Linked DNA regions of Homo sapiens. The protein of the gene in region 2 interacts with the protein of the main gene of each other region in a biochemical or structural test. Each region holds a gene or a part of one and is shown on either strand. Other genes may lie near its edges.

The links.
Region 1: the proteins of F8 (region 2) and PHYH form a complex in vitro, tested with the Homo sapiens proteins (one study listed by BioGRID).

Annotation. Positions count from the first base shown.
Region 1 is NC_000010.11:13,280,182-13,283,064, forward strand, and holds part of PHYH (phytanoyl-CoA dioxygenase, peroxisomal isoform a precursor), read right to left. Parts: intron 930-2,883; coding exon 795-929; intron 1-794. UniProt on the Homo sapiens protein: Catalyzes the 2-hydroxylation of not only racemic phytanoyl-CoA and the isomers of 3-methylhexadecanoyl-CoA, but also a variety of other mono-branched 3-methylacyl-CoA esters (with a chain length of at least seven carbon atoms) and straight-chain acyl-CoA esters (with a chain length longer than four carbon atoms).
Region 2 is NC_000023.11:154,932,224-154,935,723, reverse strand, and holds part of F8 (coagulation factor VIII isoform a preproprotein), read left to right. Parts: intron 1-3,500. UniProt on the Homo sapiens protein: Factor VIII, along with calcium and phospholipid, acts as a cofactor for F9/factor IXa when it converts F10/factor X to the activated form, factor Xa.

The DNA of each region.
Region 1 (2,883 bases), on a different chromosome or scaffold from region 2:
AGGTCTCGATCTCCTGACCTTGTGATCTGCCTGCTTTGGCCTCCCAAAGTGCTGGGATTACAGGCGTGAGCCACCTCGCCCAGCCATAAATACTCTATTCTATATTAATAAACATGGCCTATGATTGGATCTCAAACCTATAACTTTCCTTCTATCCCTTCAGAAGGCTTTTTTTTTGACACATGGTCTCACTCTGTCACCCAGGCTGGAGTGCAGTAGTGCAATCAGCTCACTGCAGCCTTGACCTCAAGCTCCAAGTGAGCCTTTCAACTCAGCCTTCGAGTAGCTGGGACTACAGCTATGCTCCACCCAACCTGACTAATTTTTATTTTTATTTCTTTTTTAGTAGAGATGGAGTCTCACTGTGTTTCTCAGGCTGGTCTCCAACTCCTGAGCTCAAGTGATTCTCCTGCTTTGGCTTCCCAAAGTGTTGGGATTTACAGGCATGAGCCACCATGCCCAGCCAGAAGGCAAGGTTTTGTCTTTGATTTTCTCTCATCTCAATCTGTAGTTTTGTTTTCCTTTACTGTCCTGTGTGAAACAGGACAGCCAGCACACCTCTGGACAGCCCCAAGACATAAAGAAGCAGCAGGAAGTTCTCAAGCCTCCTGCACGGGGGCACAAGTGTAAATGGAAATTCCATTGTCATTTTTGGTGGGGGCTCAGCGATGTCCCTAAAATGAATCTAAACCCAAGCACTATATACTGTCAAATAAACTAGGTATGAGAATTATGAAGCATCTGAAGAAAAGAAAAACCTGAGATTTTTACCTTGCTATTGTATACAAACATACCTTCAAGTTCACGCTATTTTCAGCTCCAAAGAATTTATGTGCTATTCCTACAACTTCCTTCTCGATGTTTTCTTGACTGGTGCCCTTCACGTCAATGTAGTGGCAATCGGCACTGGCGAAATGGCAGGAAATTGCCTGTGCAAAGTGAACAAATTGATATTGGAGAAAAACATCCCATGAATACCAGTGACCAAGCAGGGAGTCTTTCTTTTAGAAAGTCATTTATTTCACTCAGTATTTGATTTCTAAGTGGAAAGTCAGGTCCATTGCATCCTGTGTCAATCTCTTTGTAACTAAGCCTGTTTTTGTTTCCAGCTAGAAGTTAATTGAGAAATTTCAAAAGATCGTTAACCAGATGTGACATGTATTTTTGAAAGGTATATATGGGAGAGGGAATGGAATTATGTCAGTAAGAGGTATTTAGTTTTTTTTTTTTTTAGCATTTTATTTTCCTAATGAATGAATATCCCAAAGTCTTAAGAAGGACTGCATTCCACGGCAGTTTATCTCATAAGTTAGTTACCTGGTCCAATTTGGGATGAATTGTTATTTCAGTGGCAATAGATTATGAAAAGAACTAAAAATACCTTGAGATAGAAAATAATGCAGACACCTTCTCTCAAATCAAAAGGACATTTAAAAGCCAATACCAGTGACATATATTACCCCTCTTGCTTCCTTCTGAGGGTAAGGATGAAATTGCTTGGTTCTCCCTATTTTAGAAAAAGTTATAAACAGATCTAAGCTGCAAGGCAATCGTTAAAACTTACCTTTTTTGTCACAAGTGATCACACTTGTCAGAAAGACTTTCTACTTTGCCCCAAACAACAAATTTCTAGGGAGTGGAGTCACAAACTCCATTGCCTCTGTAAGCCCTGGTGCCATACGGCACTGTAACAGAGCCCAAGGCAAAGGGAAAACACGCACCCCTATATCTGTATCTTTATGAAATTATAGTAATATTTTCCCAGAACATTAAAGTCATTAAGCCTGGGCACGGTGGCTCATGCCTGTAATTCCAGTACTCTGGGAGGCCAAGGCAGGAGGATCACTTGAGGCCAGGAGTTCAAGACTCGCCTGGGCAACATAGCAAGACCATGTCTGTACAAAAAATGAAAAAATAAAATTAGCCAGGTGTGGTCATGCATGCCTGTAGTCCCAGCTACTTGAGAGGTTGAGGTGGGAGGATGGCTTGAGCCTCAGTGTTCCAAGATGCAGTGAGCTATGATTGCACCACTGCACTCCAGCCTGGGCAAAAGAGCAAGATGCTGTCTCAAATAAATATATAAACAAATAATAAAATGTTTTAAAATAAAAGCATTAAAAAACATTGGGCCAGGCGAGATGGCTCACATCTGTCATCCTAGCATTTTGGGAGGCCAAGGTGAGACGATCACTCAAGGCCAGGAGTTCGAGACCAGATTGGCCAACCTGGGGAAACCCCATCTCTACTAAAAAATACAAAAATTAGCTGGGCATAGTGGCGTGTGCCTGTAGTCTCAGCTACTCACGAGGCTGAGGCAGGAGAATTGCTTGAACCTGGGAGGCCAAGGTTGCAGTCAGCTGAGATTGCATCACTGCAATCCAGCCTGGGCAACAGAGTGAGACTCCACCTCAAAAAAAAAAAAAAAAGAAAAAAGGAAAATTGCCAAGTCTATATATTAAAACCCACAACATGATTTGTGTCGTTGTGCCTGCACCTCGCTACTTGCACAGCTCTGAAGGTTGTGCTAGTGTGGGGTCCAATAGTGTCTTTTATTTAAACTTTTGGCATTGTGCGCAGCCAATACATTGGGTATTTTGCATTAATTTTGATTTTTTTAAATTTCGCATTAAAATGTTACTAAACTCGATTGCAGAGTCTTTTTTTGGCATCCCCTTACATTTTACCCCTGGAGAGAGTGCCCCAACTTGTCCCACCCTAATCCTGACCCTGATGAGGCTGGTGGAAATATGAATGAATGGAAGACGAAATTTGGCCCCTAACCCATGGCCTCAGGAGACAACAGTGATTTTTTCTTTTTTAGTAGAAGTGGGGTCTCGCCATGTTGCCCAGACTGGTCTAGAGCTCTTGGTCCCAAGTGATCCT
Region 2 (3,500 bases):
TGGGTTGTTGAGTTAATTGATGAACTCATAGATGACATACAATTTATCTTTTTATTCTTGTGTCACTTGTGCTTTTGATGTCACATCTAGGAAGGCTTTGTCTAGCCCAAGGCCACATTTACTTCCATATTTTCTTCTAAGAGTTTGATAGTTGTAGCTGTTACATATATGTCTATGATCTAGTTTGAATAAATTTTTGTGTATGGTGTGAAGAAGAGGTCTAACCTCTTTTTTATTTTTTGCATGTAAACATCCAGTTGTCCCGGCACCATTTGTTGAAAATATGATTCTTTTCCCATTAAGTCATCTTGACACCCTTGTTGAAAATCAATTGACCATAAATGTGAGAGTTTATTTCTGAACTCTCCATTCTGTTCCATTGACCCATACGTCTTCTATAAATTCTTATAGCTAATTCTACATTAGACTTTGGTTTTTCAGATGTGGTCATCTCATTAGATTATGGTGATATGTTTGGTTACAAGTTTTATCTTCTCCTTGGCAACATTTTTTTTATTACTGCTCTTCTTTTATTCGTTTTTGTTGTTCCTTTCTCTTTTTGTGAGACAGGGTCTCACTCTGTTGCCCAGGGTGGAGTAAGTGGTGTGATCATGGCTCACTGCAGCCTCAACCTCCTGGGCTCAAGCAATCCTCCCACCTCAGCCTCCCAAGTAGTGGGACTACAGGCATGCACCATCATGCCAGGCTAACTTTTTTATTTTTTGTAGAGACAGGGTCTTGCTTTGTTGCCCAGGCTGGTCTTGAACTCCAAGCTCAAGCAATCCTCCAACCTCAGCTTCCCAAAGTGCTGGGATTACCAGTATGAGCCACTGCACCTGGCCTTGTTGTTCCTTTCTTCCTTTTATCTTGTAGTATCTTGATCCTTTTTGCTTATTATTTATCATTGAGGTGAGTTTGTTCTAAATAAACTTTTCGCAGAAAGTTTATGTAGATATATTAATATCAATGAGGCATTAGGAGTGAGTTTTAGATTAGCAGGAATTCTCTTATGAAAGGTATTGATTGTATGTGTGAGTTTTCAGCCTTTACTTCTCTCCAGCCCATCAAGATCAAAGCTGCAGAGTTGTTTACATTTCAGAATTTCTTTCCTCCCCTCCCCACCTTGCAAAACAGACTTACAGTGCAAAAATGACTTGTCAATGTGATTCTTTCTTCTGGTCCCATCTTTCCTACCTTTTGAGACTTGTGTTGAAAGGAGTCCAGTAAAACCACCGATGCTAGCTTGTATACCCTGATCCCATTGTTATAATGAATGACTGACTGTTTTTCATATCAAAGTATAATACTTGCACCTTGATAGAAGAAAGAAACAAGGCCAGGCACAGTGGTTCATGCCTGTAATCCCAGCACTTTGGGAGGCTGAAGTAGGAGGAATAATTAGACTTTGATATTAAAAATGGGGAAGATATGGCGGTATAAGATATGAGGAAGTATGTCTTCTTGGACTTTTCTGAAATCTGCCAGCCATGAGCATCCACTCTTTTTATCTTTTGATACCTGTTTTATATTAACTATACTTCTATTTTGTGGTTTCATGGCTTCAGATATCTTCCAGCTTAATTGTACTCTGTCTTTAATTATTTGCAGCAATTTCTGAAAGGAGCAAGAAGAAAGGCCAGCCCTTTCTTCACTACCTTAAAAACTGGTCATCTTTTGAAACCCCATGAAAGGCACAGTGGGTGACCATCTACATCAGGAGTGGGCAAACTATGGCCCTTGGGTAGTCTGGTCTCTGTCCGTTTTTGTAAGGTTTTATTGGAACCCATACACACACAAACTGATCATCTCTTGTTATGTGTTAAGTTTTCTTATAATTATTCTTTTCTATTTCATCCAGCTGAATTACCATTTCACCTTGTGTATGCCCTTTCCAGTCTTAAATTATAGAAGCTATGTCTTTGTGGTTTTAAATTATGGAAGCTGTGCCTTCTTGTGTTTTAGTATGGCAAGATATTTGTTCTTACTTTTCCTCTAGAATCTGCAGTGGATTACTTTCAGAAGTAGGTATTGCCTCTAAGTTTCCTGACTTCTGTTTCCTTCTCCCTGTTCTGTAGTATATTTATAGATTGCATGTTTTCTCGTCCTTAAACAAGGTACAAATATGTTCTGATCAAGGTTTGCTAGCCGAGAGGATAAGTGGCTTGCTCTTAGCCTAACTCTCTGTCTACTTAATGGATGTCGAATTCCCTTCTCAACTCAACAGCTAGTAACTAGTTCCAAGATCGGATAATAGCTTACAGAATTAATTAGTTCAGTGAAAGCCCTGGTTTGATCACAGAGGCAGGAGACTGATCTATATATTTGTAGTGCTGACTAGACCCCAACTTGGCCAGATAGCTTATACCTATGTCAGAAGTTGGAGGAGGAGATTGACAGCTGAGGTGTCTCCAAGGGAATTACAATTATTTTCATTTTCTTTGTGTCTGTAATTATGTCTCTTTTCTTACTTCAAATTTTGTATATGTGAAATTTCTTAATTTTTATTTGGTTATTTATTTTATTGACTTTTTCATCAAACAACCAACTCTAAGTTCTTGGATTGAAATTTATGAATTAATTATAATGTTTTAAATTTACCATTAGTCACACATACAATACAAAAAGATATTTTCATTACAAAATTTTAACCCAAGCCATTAAAACTAAACTCCAGCTTGGTCACCATTCCTAATACCAGGCCCCTCTCAGAGGGGAGGGTAAATAAAAGTCCATTTTGGTAACTAGTTTGACGAGAATCTCTAATTGTTTCCCTGTTTTTCTTATAATGTCTGCCTTTGAATTATCCTCTTTTTTTCAAGAGTTCCATCATATAATGTATTCCTTTTTGCTTACAGATTGACCTCCTAGAGGCATGCATCCCCCTGCTCCAGTCTGAGCTGGTTCTCTCTAGGCCTGAGGCTCAGTTATCAACTTGGGACTTTTATTTACCCTCCCTCAGGATAGGTACCTGGTTCTTGGATACCAGGTCTTACTCTTGTTTGAGATACTCCTTTATTTTGGTGGCAAACATTCCATAATCACTTCCTGATAATGGTGACATTTGAGGTAGATTTTCTGAGTCTTTATATGTTAGAATATGTTTTTATTCTCCTTTGCCACTTGATTGATAATTTGGCTGCACATAGAATGTAAGCATTCACAGGGCTTTTGGGAGCAGCTTCCCTTGAGAAGAAGGTGGATGCAGTTAAGATCTTCCCTGAAAAGACTGTGTGAAATGACAAGGCTATTGAGGTACCCAACGGGTAGCTTGGTAAAGGTGTATCTTGTCTCTTATGTTTATGCATCTACTTTACCACCATGTAATTAGCCTATTATAACTTGTTGCATTCCTTCACTCAGCTAATCTTGTTCATGGTAGAAATTAATATTGCTAGTACCATGGTAGAATTTTATATTAGCTGGATCCTAGACCTAAATGCTCCTTCCTTGTGCTTACATATTCTGCAAGTGGGTGACAGTGGATGCTAGGTATTGTGTTA